Homo sapiens: one gene and its partner. The protein of the gene in region 2 interacts with the protein of the main gene of each other region in a pairwise test. Each region holds a gene or a part of one and is shown on either strand. Other genes may lie near its edges. The genes, in order: HTR6 and NF1.

Evidence for each region.
Region 1: the proteins of NF1 (region 2) and HTR6 come close enough for resonance energy transfer, tested with the Homo sapiens proteins (one study listed by BioGRID).

Annotation. Positions count from the first base shown.
Region 1 is NC_000001.11:19,666,958-19,679,473, reverse strand, and holds part of HTR6 (5-hydroxytryptamine receptor 6), read right to left. Parts: intron 908-12,516; coding exon 749-907; intron 556-748; coding exon 106-555; 3' UTR 1-105. UniProt on the Homo sapiens protein: G-protein coupled receptor for 5-hydroxytryptamine (serotonin), a biogenic hormone that functions as a neurotransmitter, a hormone and a mitogen. Also has a high affinity for tricyclic psychotropic drugs.
Region 2 is NC_000017.11:31,335,384-31,342,976, reverse strand, and holds part of NF1 (neurofibromin), read right to left. Parts: intron 6,645-7,593; coding exon 6,504-6,644; intron 6,343-6,503; coding exon 6,063-6,342; intron 5,610-6,062; coding exon 5,395-5,609; intron 5,159-5,394; coding exon 5,097-5,158; intron 4,953-5,096; coding exon 4,838-4,952; intron 4,274-4,837; coding exon 4,172-4,273; intron 2,473-4,171; coding exon 2,332-2,472; intron 1-2,331. UniProt on the Homo sapiens protein: Stimulates the GTPase activity of Ras. NF1 shows greater affinity for Ras GAP, but lower specific activity. May be a regulator of Ras activity.

The DNA of each region.
Region 1 (12,516 bases), on a different chromosome or scaffold from region 2:
TCTAGGAGACTTGCAGCCTCCTGGTCTTAGCCAAGAGCTGGCCCAAGGACTCAGGGTCTGGGTTCTGCTCAATCCAGCTCCCCATTGGCCAGCCCCAAGCCCGGGTCAGTTCGTGGGGATGCCAAGTGGATGCGGCCGCAGCTCGGGCTCCGCGGGGTCGATGTTGAAGAAATTGACGGCGGCAGCGGCCCTGGTGGGCAGCGGGGGGTCCTGGGTGGCCTCGCCAGGAAGCAGCAGCTGGGCCGTGAGCCGCAGGCCCGAGGAGCCGCCTGAGCCTGCGTCTGAGTCCGAATCTGAGTCCGGCGGCAGGGGCAGCGGCAGCACCTGCTGTAGGCTAAGGCCGGGCCGGGGGCCGCTGTGAGAGGTGCGCAGTGATGGCGAGGCCAGGCTGGCCTGGCGCTCCCGGGGACAGCGTGGACATGGCAGGAACCTGCCCAGCGCCCGCTTGAAGTCCCGCATGAAGAGTGGGTAGATGATGGGGTTCATGGTGCTGTTACAGTAACCCAGCCATGTGAGGACATCGAAGAGGCCTGGGGAGATGCAGTCGCACACGGCCTGGGGGGAGGGGATGCATCATGCCTGGTCCCAGGGCAGGGACCCAGGCCACCCTTCCCAGCATGTATGGAGCAGACACACACACACACGCACCACGAGAGGCAGCCTACCCTCCCCTGTCCCCATGCCTGGGCTGGGATCCAGGGCCTCTCCTGCAAGGGCCGGACTCACCTGCCCCCTGCCGTGGCATTACCTGGACTATGTTGGCCACAAAGAAGGGCAACCAGGTCACAAAGAACATGCCCAGCAGGATGCCCAGCGTCAGGCTGGCCTTCAGGGCCTTCCTGCTGTGCTTCGTGGCTAGACGCCTGCTGTCAGCAGACTCCACCCCTGGGCGTGGGGTCCTGGGCACCTGCGGAAAGGAAGGCCACATGAGTCCGTTGAGAAAGGGCCCCCGTCTGACCCTGATCCTAGCCACAGACTGAGCTTCAATCCTAATTCTAGACTGAGCCCTAGTGCCAGGATTAAACTGGGCCCTGTTCCTTGACTGAGTCCCAACTAGAGTCCTAGACTGAGCCCTGACCCTGACTCCAGGCCAAGCCCTGACATCAGCAATAAACCAAGCCCTGACCTTGGCCCCCCACTGAACCCTGACACCTACCATAAAGCCCTACATAACCAAGTTCTCAAACCAAGCCTCAACTGTGGACCTAGACTGAGCTCTGATCCTGGTCCCACACTGAGCCCTGACCCTGACCCAGAATTTCATAAGGAGCTCTAGGAAGTGCAGTGAGACAGAGCAATACCTGAAACACAAATCAGATGGTTCAGAAGAACAACCATCCCTGCAAAGACAATACGTGACACAGGCCAACACACACATTACAATGAGCCCAGCACCTTCCAAAGCCTTTAGCGCTACAGAAATCAATTGCAATTGACTGGGCACAGTGGCTCACGCCTGTAATCCCAGCACTTTGGGAGGCCGAGGCAGGCAGATCACTTGAGGTCAGGAGTTTGAGACCAGCCTGGCCAACAGGGTGAAACCTTGCCTCTACTAAAAATACAAAAATTAGCCAGGCGTGGTGGCAGGCACCTGTAATCCCAGCTACTCAGGAGACTGAGGCAGGAGAATTGCTTGAACCCAGGAGGTGGAGGTTGCAGTGTGCCAAGCTCACATCACTGCACTCCAAGCCTGGGTGACAGAGCGAGACTCTGTCACACACACAGACACACACAAAATCAATTGCAATTGAACAGTACTTGAAAAAGAGGACCTGTTACTGTCCAGAGCTTGGCAATTGCTTTGTATGTGGATTGTCTTCACATTTGGGAGCAATAGTCTTGCCTGGGCAATTACTCTTGAGCCCCACAAAATAGAAAGGCTTTTTTGAGAATGTGTGCACAGAGCCAATGTTTGCAGCTAAATCTCTTAATAGGCTCCTAAGGATGCTGGTTACCTTGGCATTTTATAGCTCAATTATACTGCGAACTGGCAGGCATCTCCATTCTCAAAAGTGGACAGGAAGAGGAGGAAGGGGTAGGAGGGAGGAAGAGAAAGAAGCTACTTCCCAGCAGCCACTGAAAGGAAGGCATGGGCCCGGGGAGGTTAGAATTTGACTTTGCAAACTGGCCCCCACAGTCCCAAAGGGCTCTCTGAGCTGGATCATTCTTTAGCTCAGCAGTGCTCTTCACTTGTTAAACTTCATGAGCCTTTTGAAAATCTAATGAAATCTCACACACACACACACACACACACAAACCTCTCCCCAGAAAATAAAAGGCTTGTAAATTTTTACACACACACACACAGACAAGAAAACAACGTTTCACACTTCCAGAAGGTTCAGAGATGACCTTGAAGTCTCTAGGTTTCCACCAGAAACCCCTAGGAGTCCGTGAAAGCTGGGATGTGAAGCCCTCCTCTAAACCATGTGTTTCTGTAATCAACGTGGATTTTCATATATTAGATTTACACAAAATTAGGCCCACCTCTATTTACTATTTAATGCCCGTGGGCAGTGGTGTGCACAATTCATCATGAGCTACGCAAAGGGTGTGTTTGCGGTCTGTGAATACATCTGGGCTTTGACAGCCAGGGATTTTCCCGGCACTGGGATTTGTCCAGTTCCTAAATTGCGTGAGAGCCCTGCTTAGTTCTCGAGGCCAGAGGTGGGTTGGATATGGGGAGATGAGGTCAGAAGGAGGCAGGAGCAGAGCCAGATTCCCAGGCAACCTTCCGCAGATGGAAAGGCGGAGGAGGCAAAGCCAAGATGTGTCAACTCCAGGGAGCACCAAAGCCAACACCCCACCCCACTCTGCTGCGCATGCCCTCTCCTCCAGCCCCGGCTCTTTCTAGGCCTCCAGAGTTGGTGTCTTGTCCATGGTGCTGAAACCCCAACTACACGCGGTCTTTTCATAGAAGCTGGAATTCTAATTCTGAAATGGCAAGGAGGTTGCTGGGGCAGGGAGACGAAGCACATCGTAATCCCCACCCCTCAACGTGTTTCTTCACATGAAATCTGGTTGTACAAATATCAAGGTTATACAAATTCACAACAGAGGCCTTGGTTTCTCCCTTCTGTCTTGGTGAGACAGCATTGTACAGAGGCAAAACCTGGGCTTTTAAGACAGGTGATCTGGCTTCAAATCAAAGTGGCCTCTACCACTTACTCGCTCTGTGATCTTGAGAGAGCCTCTGTTTCCACATCTGCAAAATGGGAGAAATGATACTCAGCTTACGGCGTCGCTGTGAAGCTATGGATAATAAATGCATGCACAGAGTCTGACGTTGAGTAGGTGCTAAATACCTGGTAGCCATGTTGCTGTTTCAGTGATATGTGTTGTGAGGTTGGGGTGATTTTGAGCACTGTTGGGGAGCCTGTCCTTCTGCCAGCAGCTCTGGCCTCCCCAAAGCAGCACAGACACCAAGACAAATGCTCTGAGTCACCACGCTGCGGCTCAGATGCTATGACTAGAGGATGCTCTCCTCCGACTCCACCCCATCATACACGAGTCTGCTCCAAAGTCATTCCAAGTTAGCAAGGGAGTAAAAGAGGGTTTTACTCTCCTCTCTCCTCTTCTAGTTTTCTCTCCTCCAGAGTGGACTCTATATGGCTTTTGTGACCACACCATGGTCAGCCTGGAGGAAGAGGCTCCTGCTTCCCCAAAAGAATCTCCTAAGACCTGCCACACCTTCAAATTGCTGCCATCAATGGGAATAGACGGCATGGAGAGGGATGAGACACTGTCTCATCCAGGCATCGCTCTGACCCTTAGTGACCTGAGGAGGGCAGGGGAGAGGAGGTAGCCCTGATCTTATCACAGCTCTAGGGCATGGGGGAAACTGAGGCACTAGGGGGAATATCTCAGGTCAATCATTGGGGGAAGGAGCTCCAGAGAATGGGGTGAAGATGAACTGAGATTCCCTTTCTAGTCTCCCTGGGAACAACTCCAGGTTTTTCTTTCTCCTCTGCTTTCCAGAGAGTTGACTCAAGAACACAGGGAAGAGGAAAGAGAGAAGGAAACTGAGGCTCAGAAAGGGTAGAGGACACTCTACCCTTCCCAAGGTCACACTGTTCCAGTACAAGGCCTCCAACCAAAACCTGAGTGGCCCTGAACAAATCAGCATTATCATCCCCATTTCTCGAGCACTTACTACACATCAGCATTTGATAGTCATTAGGTCATTCAGTCTTTATGAGAGGTAGGCATTGTCATCCCCATTTTGCAGATGAGACAACTGAGGCTCGGAGAGGCAAAATGACTTGCCAGAAGTCACACAGCAGTTAAGAGTTGAGTTAGGGATTCCATCATTTCTGGCCTCAGGAACACCACTCTGCCCACTTCACCAAGCTGCTTCCACCTTTGGAGACGGCATCCATGGGCCCAGTCAGGTGGGGTTACAGAAACCCCACCACTGTCAGCAAGAGGCCCTCATGGAGCAGAAGCCAATGGCTGTCACTAGTCCACACCCCGGCATCTGGCTGATGCTGGCATCACCCTTCTGGATTCTCTCTCCCCCATAAGCACCTCGCAGCCCCTTGGGGCCATGTCCTGTCGTTTGCATCTCCCTTCTGTATCAGTGTCAGAGGGCAGCTTCCTGAAGGACAATCCAGGGCCCTTCCAGCCAACAATCACACATACAGCTTCCAGCCAACACCTACATTCATGTCTGCACGCTTCACATATCCAAGAATGTGTCCCACAGCACTACTTGTGATAGGAAAAAATTGGAAACAGCCTTAATGTCCATCAAAAGAAGAGTGGTTTAGGCTGGGCACAGTGGCTCACGCCTATAATCTCAGCCCTTTGGGAGGCCAAGGTGGGCAGATCACTTGAGGTCAGTAGTTCGAGACCAGCCTGGCCAACATGGCAAAACCCTGTCTCTGCTAAAAATAAAAAAATTAGCCAGGTGTGGTGGTGCATGCCTGTAGTCCCACTACTCAGGAGGCTGAGGCAGGAGAATCACTTGAACCCAGGAGGTGGAGGCTGCAGTGAGCCGAGATCACACCACCACACTCCAGCCTGGGTGACAGAGTGAGAGTTTGTCTCAAAAAAAAAAAAAAAAAAGAGAAGAGTGGCTTAAATAAACCACGGTGAATTCCCACTACAGAATACTACACAGATGTTTTAAAAGAATGAATCAATCAAATGAAAAGATCTCCATGATTATTAAATTATAATAGCAGGTTGCAAAGTAATAGATACAGCATGATCCTATTTGTTTAAAAAACAATATCCAACACAAAGCACCAAGTTTCTTTAAGTACCTGTATAAATACATAAGCACATAGAAAATGACCCGGAAGGGCTAGGTGCAGTGGCTCACACCTGTAATCCCAGCACTTTGGGAGGCCGAGGCAGGTGGATTGCTTGAGTCCAGGAGTTCAAGACCAGCCTGGGCAGCATGGTGAAACCCCATCTCTACAAAAAATACAAAAATTAGCCAGGCATGGTGATGTGCGTCTGTAGCCCCAGCTACTCCGGAGGTTGACGTGGGAGGATCACCTGAGTCAGAAGAGGTCAAGGCTGCAGTGAGCCGTGGTTGTACCACTGCACTCCAGCCTGGGTGACAGAGTGACACTCTGTCCTAACAGAAAAAAAAAAAAAAAAAAAGACCTAGAAGGACATATCCTAAATTGATGCATGTCCCTGGGAGTGAAAGGTGATTAGCTGGAATTTGGAGGTCTTTTCCTTCATCCCTATTGTTGAATTTTTAAAGTGTATTTATGTATTCCTTTGTGCAATTAATTTTATTTATTTATTTATTTATTTTTTGAGACGAAGTCTCGCTCTTGTTGCCCAGGCTGGAGTGCAATGGCGCGATCTCGGCTCACCACAACCTCTGCCTCCCGGGTTCAAGCGATTCTCCTGCCTCAGCCTCCCAAGTAGCTGGGACTACAGGTGTGCACCACCATGCCCATCTAATTTTGTACCTTAGTAGAGATGGGGTTTCTCCATGTTAGTCTCAAACTCCCGATCTCAGGTGATCCACCCACCTCGGCCTCCCAAAGTGCTGGGATTACAGGCGTGAGCCACCACGCCCAGCCCACAATTAAATTTTGTTACCATCATCTGATCATAGTGTGAGAGTTACAAGACAGACTCTGGAGCCAGACTGCCTGGTTTCAAATCCTGGCTCTGTTACAAACTAGTGGAGTGACCTTAAGCAAGTTACTTCATCTATGCTTCCACTTTCTGTTCTGTAAAATGGCACTAAAATAGCATCTACCTCATAGGATTATAATAAGGATAAAATAAAATAATACACTGAAAGTTAGAACAGTGCCAGCACATAGGAAGTCCCATAGAAGTGTTAGCTATTGTTGTCATTATTATTAGTCTCTGGCTCAGCTGTTTGATAATGATGGTGATGGTGCTGGTGACAGCAGTGATGTTTTTCCCTAGAAAGGGTCAAGGTGGTGAGCTCCCCAGAAACATATTTTACCAACAACAGGAAAAGAGAGGCACGAACAACTATTGTTGTTGTTTTAAAGATGGGGTCTTGCTCTGTTGCCTGGGCTCAAGCAATCCTCTCACCTCAGCCTCTTCGAATAGCTGTAACTAAAGGTATGTGCCACCAGGCCTGGCTAATTTTTTATATATATTTTTAGAGACAGGAGCTCGCTATGTTGCCCAGGCTGGTCTCGAACTCCTAGCTTCAAAGAATCCTCCTGCCTTGGCCTCCCAAAGTGTTGGGATTACAGTTGTGAGTCACTGCCTAGCTGAAATTTGTTGAGCACTTACTATGTGCCTGGTATTTTATGTATATTATCTAATTGACTCTTCAAACAGACTTGTGTGATAGATGTCATGACCCCTGGAGCATAAGGAGGTAAAATGCCTTGCCCAAGATCGTCCAGCTATGAGGCAAAAGAGGCAGGGCTTGAACCCTAACCAGCCAGACCCCCAAGCTCCTGCTCCAGCCCTGGCTGCACCAGGCTGCCTGGCTCTGAGCAGCAGCCAAGCCTGCCATGCTCGGCAGTGTCACTCTGCCAGCCTCTCCCTGGCTCGGCCCCCTCCTCCCCCTCACAGATATTTCTGTGATCACAGCCTCCTCCTCTGAGGAGGAGGAAAGACAGAGATGGAAGGGAAGATGGATCACTAAGACAGAATGACGCTTAGTTGGGTGAGAGAGGGTGAAAAAAGGAGGGGGAGGAGGAAAAGCGGGAGAAATTGATGGGACAGGAGAAGGGGGAGGGGAAGACGGGGCACACAGAAGGAAGACATGGGAACTGAAGGAGAGAAGGATGGATGGGAGTGGGGAGGAAGGTGAGGTGTAGAGATGGGATGAGGTTATGGACCACAGAGACCCAGAAATCCTGCCAGGAAGAGGAGGAGGCTGGGCCTCTCCTGCTGGGCTCTCCCTCAAGCCAGTGGCCCATGCTGCATCTCTGAAACTGCCCCTAACACCCTGGACCCTCCACAATCTCCCAAGGATGGCTCAGTGCCACCCACATCCAGGCCCCCACCTTCCACCCTGCTCCCAACACACACACTCCCCTGCCCTGGTAGCTCCTCACTCTGCCCCACGGCTCTTCCTCCATCCCCAGCCCACACTCCCAGCCACAGTGCTAAGCAGGACCCCTTCCTCCCAGCCCTGAGGTGGTGGGAAGACCTAGTGGAAATCACTAAGCCAACCAGTGGCCTTTTAAAAGCCCATTTCCATAAATAGACATATGGAGAGGGGATGAAATGCTCAAGGCTGACCAGCTCCCATGTTCTGACCCCAGAGGAACTGGGGCCTCGAGACCTATGCCCAGCTCCTTTCCCTCTGCAGGGAAGCTAGAGAGTGGAATGGGGCAGGAAGCCAAGGCTAAGTGGGGCTGGGCACAGGAAAAGGGAAGGGGTCCAAGACACCCACATCTGATTCATTCTCATCACTTCCTTTAGGTCCAAACATTGAGGGGGCCTCCACCTCCAGGCCAGCTCTGGTGGGAAGAAAGAGGCGGTGACCCAGGAGGGCCAATGCAATTTCTCAGATGCATTTTCCCAAAGTGCAGGCCGTTCACCAGGCAATCAGGAAAACGGCCTGCAGGAGGCTTACTTAAGGAGCCGAGTGGATTTGAAAGCAGGAACAGAGGCAGAATTTGCACACGTCACGTTCAAACCAAGAGAATGGGCTTTCCAGAAAGCGGGGGGATTAGAACAGACACATTTCTGGCTTGAGAGGCCCCTGAGTCACTCTGCCTTAGAAGTAAGGCGCTGGCCTAACCAACCCATGAAGACCCCTCCAGCCTTTCACTTTAGGGCTTGGTGTGAGTGCTTTGCTTTCATCTTCAAACATACACAGTGAATAATAGATTTTGAATGTTTGCTGGGTGAAGCATCCCTCCTATAAGCTCCATAATCCTCATCGTGGTACAGTTTGATGATTAATGTCTGTACTCCTAACTAGAACAGATTTCAAGAGGGCAGGCACTGTTGGTCTCGTTCACCACTACATACACAGCCTAGAACAGCTGCTGTGCAAAGCAGGTGTCAATACATGTCACCAAGCAAATGAATTCACACGATAAAAAGTTCAGGATCATGACACTCAAGAAGTGACTCTGAAAGGCATGAGAAAACAGGCAACCGCACAAACAGGGCTGGAATACCAGGCTCCCTGAAGCACTGTGTACACTGCATTCCTTCCATCAATACATACTGAGCACCCATGATGTGCCAGGTGCCCCTAATTCCTGGGACCATGGGGGAAAACAGAAAGACAGGCCAGGCATGGTAGCTCACGCCTGTAATCCTAGCACTTTGGAAAGCCAAGGCGGGTGGATTGCCTGAGCTCAGGGTTTCAAGACCAGCCTGGGCAACACAGTGAAACCCCATCTCTACTAAAATACAAAAAATTAGCCCGGTGTGGCGATGTGCACCTATAGCCCAGCTACTCCGGAGGCTGAGGCAGGAGAATTGCTTGAACCTGGGAAGCGGAGGTTGCAGTGGGCCAAGATCACGCCACTGCACTCCAGCCTGGGCGAGAAAGTGAGACTCTGTCTCAAAAAAAAAAAAAAAGGCAGAAAAACAAGTTCCCCACCCTCATAGGCCTAAATTCTAGAAGAAGGAAATAAACAGTAAATAAATAAAAATGGGTAGGTATAGAACACGTCAGGGGGTAGGAGGTGCTGCTGAGAGAAATAACTTAGGAAATGAGGACTGGAGAGGACCTGGGGAGGGTGAGAGGTGCTACTCTTGAGAGAGGGATTAGGGGAGGCAATTCAACAGAGGCTGGAAGGAAATGATGGAAATTAGTGGGAGAACAGGGTGGAGACCTGAAGAAAGGGCACTCCAAGCAGAAGGAACCGCAAGTGAGGCAGAATGGGCTTGGTGTGTTCAAGGAACAGCAAGGAGGCCAGTATGGCTGAAAGAGAAGAAACAAGCAGGATTATAGAAGGAGAGGAGGCCAGATAGGGTCAGAGGGCCAGGTGATGTGAGACACAAGGCTGCCAGAGCAGAGGAATGATGCAGCAGGAACTGCATTGTAAAGGGGATCATTGGGGCCACTGCGGAAGGTTGAAAGGGAGGAAGAGCGGAATCAGGAAGTCAGGGCCAGGCGCAGTGGCTCACGCCTGTAATCCCAGCACTTTGGGAGGCCGAGGCTAGCAGATCACGTAAGGTCAGGAGTTCGAGACCAGCCTGGCCAACATGGTGAAACCCTGTCTCTACTAAAAATACAAAAATTAGCTGGGCGTGGCAGCACGTGCCTGTAAGCAGCCCAGGTAGGAAGTCATCAGCGTGTGGGTGGTATTTTCAGTTACGAGACAAGATGAGGTCACTAACGGGGCAAATGTGGAAAAAGGACGAGATGCTCCGAGGACTGAGGACTAGGGATGCCATGGCTCAGGCGGATCAGGAGGACCCAACAGAGAAGACCAGAAGGCACAGAGAAGAAAAGGGGCAAGGTGTGGGGTCCCCGAGCAAAGCATTTCAAGAGCATCACTGCCCACAGGCAGCACACCAGCACAGGGCGATGGCACCAGCCAGATCCGAGCTTAAACCTCACTTACCAACTGTGCAATCTTGGGCAAGTCACCTCTCGCTCTGAGCCTCAGTTTCCCCACCTGTCTAACAGGGGTGCTGGTAGTACTTGACTCATTGGGTGTTTGGGGAATTAATAAGTTTAGCTCAGTGCCTGGTACAGAGTGAGTGCTCACAGATTGTGGGGCTGCAGCTGTTAGCACCTGGGAGACTCCTGCCCAGGTTCCAAGACCACAGACTCAGGTTCAATCCTAGTACCAGCCAGCGAGATTCATGGAAAGAAAATCTGTGTGGTACTGGCACCGCTGCAACTAGGAATCCTGATCTCTCCCGCCCCAACCTCACCCAGACCAGCCAACTTCTCACATCCTTAGTCACGAGAGCAGAGCTTCCTGAACTGTGGGAATGGAGATGATTTTAGATGGTAAAGGGACACCCCATAAAATGAGTGAATCACAGAGTGAGCACGTCAGCCCATTACAGCTGTCTTCCAGCTCTTCTAGGTGCGTCAAGAGAAAGTCCCACGTTGATGCTACCATGTTTGTAATACCTTCTAGCACGCTACAAAGAGAAAGCAGGCCCTAGGCTCATCACCTCAACCACACCAAGCTGCATTTCAGTGATAGGGCTGGAGCTTCTTCAGTTTCACTGAAGTGGTGTTTGTGATCACCTTCTATTTATGGCAAAGGATACAGATTTTCCATTTCTAGAGGAGATACGAAGTTTTCTTTCTACACAAATTTGTGGAAGTAAAAATATAAAAGAGATGATTTAAAGAAAATGTCAAGAATGCCAGGCACGGGGGCATGCACCTGCAATTCCAGCTACTCGGGAGGCTGAAGTGGGAGCTCGAGGCCAGCCTGGGCAATATAGTGAGACCCTGTGTCTAATAAATAAATAAATAAAATGCCAAGTGCATGTGAATTAAGTGGCTTAAGGTGTGGAGGTGGTGGTGGAAGAGGCATTAAGGAAGATATCCGCAGGCAGTTCTTGAATGCCTGAAGCTTGTGAAACACTCCTTTTCAAGAACCCAGGGAAGCCTGTAACCCTAGCACTTTGGGAGGCCAAGACAGGAGGATCGCTTGAGCCCAAGAGTTCAGTGAGTTATGATCGGGCCAGTGCATACCAGCTCTTCAGGCTGGAATGAGCTATGATCAATTCTAAGCTGCAGTGAGCTATAATCACGCCACTACATTCCAGCCCTCCAGCCTGGGTGACAGAGCAAGACCCTGTCTCTTAAAAAACAACAATAACAACAACAAAAAGCAAGAACCCAGGGTATATGGCCTAAGGCAGCCATCCCACCCCTGAAGAAGCAAGTCAGAGTCCCAGCCACCTGCCAAGACTCAAGAATGTTCTACAGGGAGCAGGGATAGGGAGAAGGAGCTGGGCGGCAGCCAGGACTCCCAGTCCATGTGGGGCCCTGCCCCCACCCCAGGTGATAGGCAGGGGCAACTTTGGGCCTCACCCACCTGGGTGGGACAGGCAAGCTTGTCTGGGGGACTGCCAAGGAGGGTGTTAGCCTTTCACCCCTCTGCCAAGTCCCCATGTGCCCAGTGACCTCCAATGCAACCCCCACCCTCCTAGAGCTTTCACCACTCAGGGCTACACCAAAAGAGCCCAGCTGGGACTTTCCTCAAGACCTGCGACCTAAGTCACTGGGTCTCAGGCCTGGTCGGTCTACACACCCACCCCTCCAGGGGGTCAATAGGAGTCAGGTGCACTGTGGCCTGGATGGCAAGAGCAGGCACTCACTTATAGACAATGCAAGGCCTTGAGCTAAGAGCACCTACCCCATTCCCAGGCACTGAAACAAGATGGGACCTACTATGCACAGTGGGGATCAAAACTGACCTCGATCAGGAGTTCAAGACCAACCTGGCCAATATGGTGAAACCCCATCTCTACCAAAAATACAAAAGTTAGCCTGGTATAGTGGTGGGTGCCTGTAATCCCAGCTACTCAGGAGGCTGAGGCAGAAGAATCGCTTAAACCCATGAGGCAGAGGTTGCAGTGAGCCAAGATCGCACCACTGCCCTCCAGCCTGGGCAACAGAGCGAGACTCCGTCTCAAAAAAAACAAAAACAAAAACAAAAAAAAAAGCAAAAAAACTGATCTCAATATGTGTGACCCTCCTGGAGCTTATATTCAAGTCAGGGAGGCAAAATGAACAAGTCATTTTTATGACTTGTTCTTATGGAGAATAACAGGGATGGAGAGTGCAGATGGGCCTGCAGATAGGGTGGTCAAAGATGGCCCCTGGGAAGAAGGCAGCCGGGGGAAGAACATTCCAGGCACAGGGAACAGCAAGTGCAAAGACCTGGGCACAGAAGTAAGCCCAGTGCCTTCTAGAACCGTGAGAAAGGCCACAAGGCTGTTGCAGAGTAAGAGAGAGGGAGAGGGGAGGTGACACTGGAGAGGATGGCAGTGTGGGATCCTGAGGCCAGATCCTGAGACAGGTTTTCTTTATCTGGAGCACGGTGGGAAGCCTGAAGAGTCTGAAGCAGGGGAGTGACATGATCACTTCTTTTTTAAGTGCTCCAGCTT
Region 2 (7,593 bases):
GTTCACACAGTAGCTTTCTTTAAAGGCTCACTTAATTTTGTGTTCAATAGTATGACAAGATAAGTAATCCTTTCAATTTGAGAGAAATTATTTTCAGTTGACTGCAGAAAACCACAGAACATTTTAGCTACTACAAATTAACTGGTGCAAGACAGTCAAGCATATAAATAAGAAGATGGTGGAAGATGAAATCACTTTTATTTACAATACAAAATAAATGACTGTCAATTTACATCCCGGTGACTTTTAACATGCTTATTAACTCTGATGCCTAGCATCCAAAGGGCACTAGAATCAATATTAGCTCCCGCTACTGGGCTGTTTTGAAGATGAAAATACCGAGGCAGATGCCCCATTTGCAATGCTCCATTTGCAAATATTCTTTTTTTGAGATGGAGTCTTACTCTGTCGCCCAGGCTGGAGTGCAGTGGCACCACCTTGGCTCACTGCAACCTCCTGGGTTCAAGAGATCTTCCCACCTCAGCCTCCCAGGTCGCTGGAGTTACAAACATGTGCCACCCTGGCTAATTTTTGTATTTTTAGTAGAGACAGGGTGTCACCATGTTGGCCAGGCTGGTCTCGAACTCCTAACCTCAAGTGATCCTCCCAACTCGGCCTCCCAGAGTGCTGGAATTACAAACATGCGCCATTGCACCCGGCCAATTTGCAAATATTCTTAACATATAAATAGCCAACAACTAGATATCGCTGACCACCACTGTCCCAAAACAGTTTTAGAAAAACGGCAATGAGAATTAGGACAGAGGGGTTCTAGTCCCAAAACAGATGTACAAGCATGGGCAAGTTACTTAACTTCTTAGTTCCTTTCTAATTTGCAAAATGGAGGTCTGATTAATAAACTCCATAAGACCTCTTACCTCTAAAATTTTGCTTCTATATTTTTCAGACCCATATCTGTTCCAGGTTCACACTACATCTGGTAGACTGAACTAATAATGTTTAGACCAAGTATCTTTTTACACTTAAAACCATAATCCTGTTCTTTGTACCCACAGTTCAGTTAATTTCACTTCAAGCAAATCTCACTGTATATACACATTCTTTTAAAAACATTCCCCTCTTTTCTCCTAGACCCTTCCCATTTTTATCCAAAGACAAAAGGGACGTAATTTCATACTATTTTATTCTCTCCTCTATTCTCTATGAACTAAAATCCAACCCCAATTAGATCTCCATTTTACAAATTAGAAAGGAACTAAGAAGTAATTTGCCCATGTTCATATATATATACACACACACATGCACACGTGCACACACACACACACACCCCATTAGCACCCCTCCTAACATTTATTAACCTTAATTGGAGTTGGATTTTACATATTTTATGTGTGTACACACACACACACACACACACACACTTTATATATATATATACACATACATTACATATATATGTGTGTATGTAATATATGTATACACACTTTTTTTTGGAGACAGGGTCTTGCTCTGTTGCCCAAGCTGGAGTGCAGTGGCGTGATCTCAGCTCACTGCAACCTCTGCCTCCCAGGCTCAAGCAATCCTCCTACCTCACCTCCCGAGTAGCTGGGATTGTAGGTGCATGCCACCATGCCTAGCTAATTTTTGCCTTTTTTGTAGAGATGGGGTTTTGCAAGTTGCCCAGGCTGTTCTCTAACTCCTGAGCTCAACTGATCCACCTGTCTTGGCCTCCCAAAGTGCTGGGACTACAGGTATGAGCCACCACTCCTGGCCACTAATGGTATATTTTAAAGTAAGATTAGACAGAATAAAAAAACTAGTAAAATTAAGTACCCAAAAGTTTCCTTTAGACTCTCCAACTTCCTTATCTACTATGAATTATACGTATTTTTCATTAAGTGGCATTATTAAGTAAAACTAAGATTACTTTTAGATTATTTCTTCACGTGTGAAATGGGGGGCAGAGAATGCTAACCTTTACCTTAAGGTTATGAAAATTAAAAATAAATGTATAGTGTTTAGCATACGGCCTGGCATGGTAGCTATTAATATTATTACCATGTATTGTTTATGCTCATTCTGTAAGGATGATCATGTATTATTTATCCTTATTCTGTAATTCTACTAGTATTAGGCCAGTACTGTTTTTTTTTTGTTTTTTTTTTTTTGCTATTTTTATGTAAAAAATATGCATTCAAGTTTACATAGTTCTTTATGAGCTGGTAAGGAAATATACTCACAATAAGTTACATTATACAAATTCCTACTTAAGTTATGGACTTCTTGTGATTTTAAAAGAATAGCAACAAGAAAAGATGGAAGAGTACTAAATTTGAGTAATCTAGGAACCTCAAGGCAAAGTTTGCTTACCTTGTCATTGAATATACGGAGACTATCTAAAGTATGCAGGTTTTGTTCAAGAAGTGCGGTACCTGCTGAATACAAGTTGACCTCATCAAGCTGCAGCACAGCCACAGCTACCCAAAAGAGGGCTTTGTGCAGAGGCGAGTCCTGGCAAAGAAGATATGTTTGAGGCTAGTAAGATGAATCATGACATAGTCTCTTTCAAAACACACTGCAGTTAAAAATAAAGCAGCTTATCTTCCTAAATTACCCATGTTTTCTCTTTTGGGGAAGATAAAGATATGAGTAAGCTCTTCACTTTTCCATATGTATAACTAAAGACACTGTTAGCTGGACTGAGAACGTTACTTAGCACCTCCTTTGACTTCTCCCTGTTCTTTGATTTCTAAATCCAGTCACCAAGGTTTGTTGATTCTTCTAGAGTAGTCTCTTTTGTATCTTTTGTCATTTCTTTCTTATTGCTAATGACATTACCACATGCCAACCTTCTTTATTATAAAGGTGGATTCTTTTTACTTCAGTTTCTCCCTACTCCAATCCACTGTGCACACTACCACCAGGAGCTAAGTCCTGCTTTCATCGTATGACTTGTCTGCTTAAAAACTGTACATTTCCAAACTCTTTTGAACAATGCTGAATGTGAGATGAGGTCTATCCAGTCCTCACAACTTTCCCTCTCTCGATTCCTTTGAAAAGCTTCTCCATTACAACTAGAATGTTCTACCCACCTTCCCTCCATTGTCCTGGCATTCTTGTGCAGCTCTCTCCCTTTCTCTCTACCTACATTAACTCCTATGTTTCCCTTTAACTTTATTTTAAACTGTCTTTTCAACTTCTTGTCACTCTTAACCAGTATGGTAATCTCTTGCTGCTCTGAATTAAAAGTATTTATTACTGGCAATCTTTACTTAGCACTGTGATATTAGGGAAAATACATGGACTTTAGAGTCAAATAGTATCACATTAGAATCATGGTTCTTTTATTAGGTATGTGACTTTGGGCAAGTTATTTAGCCCTTCTGAGCTCATTTTCACTTAGAAGATGGGGACCAGAGAACCATTTTGTATAATACAAAATTAGAATGCTTGTAGACAAACCAGGAATATAACAGGTATTATTTCTCTGTTATTTCTCCCAAGTCTGGCATACCTTTGTACTCAAATCACAGAATTAAACCACTTTAGAACTGGATGGTAATACCATGCCATTATCGAATCTTTTTCATTTTATTAATACAAAAACATGATTTCCAGATATCTTAAATATAAAAATGGGATAAGGTCAGACCATCCTAAAACAGTGGCCACTTCATTTTACTCCTTTTAAATATAATCTTCATTTGGCACCCAAACTCTTATGACGATCAAGTATACTTCTCCCAGCTTTAATTTCTCCATAGTAATAATCACTAACATACTACGTATTTTGTTTACTTCATTATCCATTCACTCCCCAACCTCCACACCCACCCCAGAAAGTAAGCTCCATGAAGGCAGTGAGTTTTATGGGCTTTGTTAGTACTCTATCTCTAGCGCCTAAAACAGTACTTGGCAATAGCAGATAATTAATAGTTATAAGATAAAATAATTAAGAATATATACCTATCTTTCCTTTAGCACTGATGAGACCAAAAACTTACAAGCGCTTGAGAACATACTATCCATACTTACTCTTCTTCTAATATGACTACTTCAAACAACTAAACTTTAAGAGGTTCTACTTTAACTATAGTTTTTTCTTTATAACTTATTCTCAATTCATCTTATTTTCTAAACTCTTTGAAAGAAAGTAACATTCAACACTGATACCCAAAATGAATGCACTCATTTTCTATACAGTAATTACCTTATTAAGAAGTGGCTGTAATTTGGTTAGTGCTATTACTGTAGCTTCTATCAGAACTTGACTGTTGTAAGTGTCAGGTCCTTTTAAGCAACTCTCAAGTGCCTTTTAGGAAAACAGAATTTTTTATTTTACTTTCATTGAAATAAAACATTAACTCCTAAACTGAATCTCGGAATGAATTCAGGAACATTTACTTATTTAATAAATGCTAGAATGATTTCTCATGCTATGGTGATCTTGGTAGCTAGCTTAATGTACATTTGTTTTCTTATTTTTTGACATTTCTACATTATAAGAGTCAGACATTATTATAGTAATTACAAATTAAATAATTTTATGCAAGGCTATAGTCTTACCATATAATTAAATGCTTTGAAAACTGGTAAAATACTAAGTGTACCTGCTTAGCAAAAGAGGCAACATATTTTATTTTAAAGACATCTTCCTTAATGAAGTAATCAGAGTTTACATATAAAGACAGCTTCTTTAGAGAAGACTTCTTCAAAGAATTACAATAAATAATCAAAATACATTTTAAAGGCTTAATAAGTAACATATAAGATATTTCATTGACCTCAAATTTAAACGTCTTTTAGAAAAATGAAAGATATGCTTTACAACTTGAGAACCATAAATATTTGGGAGAAGTGAGGGCGGAACAGGTACCTTGCTAAGAATACGGATTATCTGCTTTATCTGCCCATGAGACACTCGTTTGCTAATACACCCAAAGACAACAAGAGCTCTTGGTTGCAGGGATGGATTATATTGGAATGCAAATCTGCAATTAAAAGATCCACAGAACTTATAAAAACCTTTGTGTTTATATATACTAAATAATAAATTATAACATTGATCATACAGTAATAGCTGTATTTTCAACAATATGCATATTTTTACAACTTATATTTAATTTAGGACATACCTTTGAGCTAGTTCTGTCCACTGGTCCAGCCACTTGCACGTTGGAATATCTCTCATGCATGCCTAAAAAAGGGGATACTCTGAATACATATTGTACATAAATGTTTTTAGAACTGTTTAAATAATGTTTATTATGATGTCATTAAGTGACCTGTTACCAATAACACAGTCCATGCAAGTGTTTTTATTTAAGCATTAAGTACAAAATAGCACAATAAACCAATATTTCTTCTATATAGTATTAACATATTTTTAAAAAAAGATTTTAACTTAGTTTCTTATCATTTTGGCTTCTATACCTCCATGATCTCCAACAAAGCTTCTGTGACTGTTTCCAAGGATGTCAAAGCAAAAGTCTCTCTCTCATAGGAGCCAGGAGAGAATGACCTGTCCCGGTAACTGGAACGGAAGGCAATGACAGCAGCTGACTTGACTTTGCTAATGCCAAACAGCAAGTAAAATTTGGGTAATGAGAACTCTGTCAGACTGAGTCTCAAAACTTGCTTGGTCTCTTCTGTAAGAGAATAAAGGAACAAGTAAAGACAGAAAATATTACTTTTTAATTTCTAAAGTTCCATGTTTCATTTTGAATTTAGAAAATTTGAATACCATATAAAAATTACATAATCATGTTCCCTAAATCAAACCTCTAGATACATTGTATTAATGCTCCTTGCTTCATTTATCTACAAATTAGTGCTGGTAACTGAACATGGTCAACTGGCACTGAGTATTCCGCTTATGGGATAACTCTACATGACAAGTATGCATAGAAAATCTTTACTATAGCTTGATATGGAATGGAAGTAATTTATTTTCTTTTTGGTAATATTTCATGTCATTACTGGAGGCTTAAATTAGCAACTTGGTGTTAGAGCACAAACATAAATAAGATAATCTATATTGATCAGGTGAAGTAAAATGGAGAAAGGAACTGGTAAACACAAATTCCTTTCCTAGAACTTACCACTAAAATGAAGCTGTGAACAAGTACACAGAGAGTGAATGATATTAATGACCAGTCCATGTGTGGAAGCTCTAAGGGAGAGCGGACCTGTGGCTACTAAGAAAGTAACAACGTGGAAGAGGTAGGGAAGATGAGCTGCCACATCAAGGGAATTGTTGAAGGACAGCATCAGCATGTAGCGTGCTAAAATAGCAATATCATCCCACATAAGATGTTGTTCTAAAGTAGGAGTTGGAGATAAGCATGTCTTGTCAATTATTTTGCACATCCTTCCAATAACCTGTAAAGAAGCAGGATTTTTTTTTTTAAAAAAAAAAACATGGGACTCAAAGTTTTAGCACAAAAAAGTTCAGTTTAATTTAAAAGTAATTACAAAACAAAAAACCTCCTGATGATAAAACAGATATGCTATAGTACAGAAGGCAAAAGAAAAGTGATTACCTTGCTTGAAACCAATTTCACATTTCCAGAAGCCAAAGCTACAGCAGTATCTGCCATCACCTCAGCTTTTATTGATCCCAAGCCACCTGTTGCACTGGTTTTGATGAAACTGTCTAGTACAACATCAAGCAGATCTGTAATCTAGTTGAAGAAGGAAAATAACATGTTTTTAATCACTCTACCAATTTAATTTTTAATTAAAAAATATTCATTGGAACAGCCTAATCAATATGAAAATTCTATTTTACCTGAGGCCTCAAAAATACTAGATTTTATTTACAGGCCTGTCAGTAAATACAATTTATTATAAAATATCCAGTAAAGGATGAGTATATTCATTTGACTCCTTCAGAGATTAAGAGATTGGTATTCAAAAATTTTAAATCTCTATCAATACTATCTTCAGTCACTTGCAAAGTATCTCTATGCTTTTCTAAGACAGTAATGTAGCATCAATATAAAATAGTAATTTGAAAATACAGAGCTGGGTGCAGTGGCTCACGCTTGTAATCCCAGCACTTGGGGAGGCTGAGGCGGGCGGATTGCTTGAGGCCAGGAGTTCAAGACCAGCCTGGGCAACATGGCAAAACCCTATCTCTAAAAAAAAAAAAAAAAAAAAATACAAAAATTAGCCAGGTGTGTTGGTGTGCACCTGTAGGCCCAGCTACTTGGGAGGCTGAGGTGGAAGGGTCACTTGAGCCTGGGAGGCAGAGGTTGCAATGAGCCGAGACTGTACCACTGCACTCCAGCCTGGGTGACAGAGCGAGACTCAGTCTCAAAAAAAAATAAAATATAGGAAATGACATTAAGTACCAGGATGTTTTCTAGGGCTGCAACACTGGCTCCAAGGTTATTTCTAATTATTTGGAGGAGGAGCAGCAGTGTTTGAGTGAGGGCATTATTTCCTTAAATGATTACTTTGAAGAAATGATATGCCTAATTCTTGTCAGATAAAAATAAAATTTACATTATATCCTATTTTAATATTGGCATTCTTATGTAGAACTATAAATGAAAGCAGATGTCCCAAATAGCATCAATAAGAAGAAACATCTACTGACACCTTTGGAATGTAGAGAACTAGAATAAA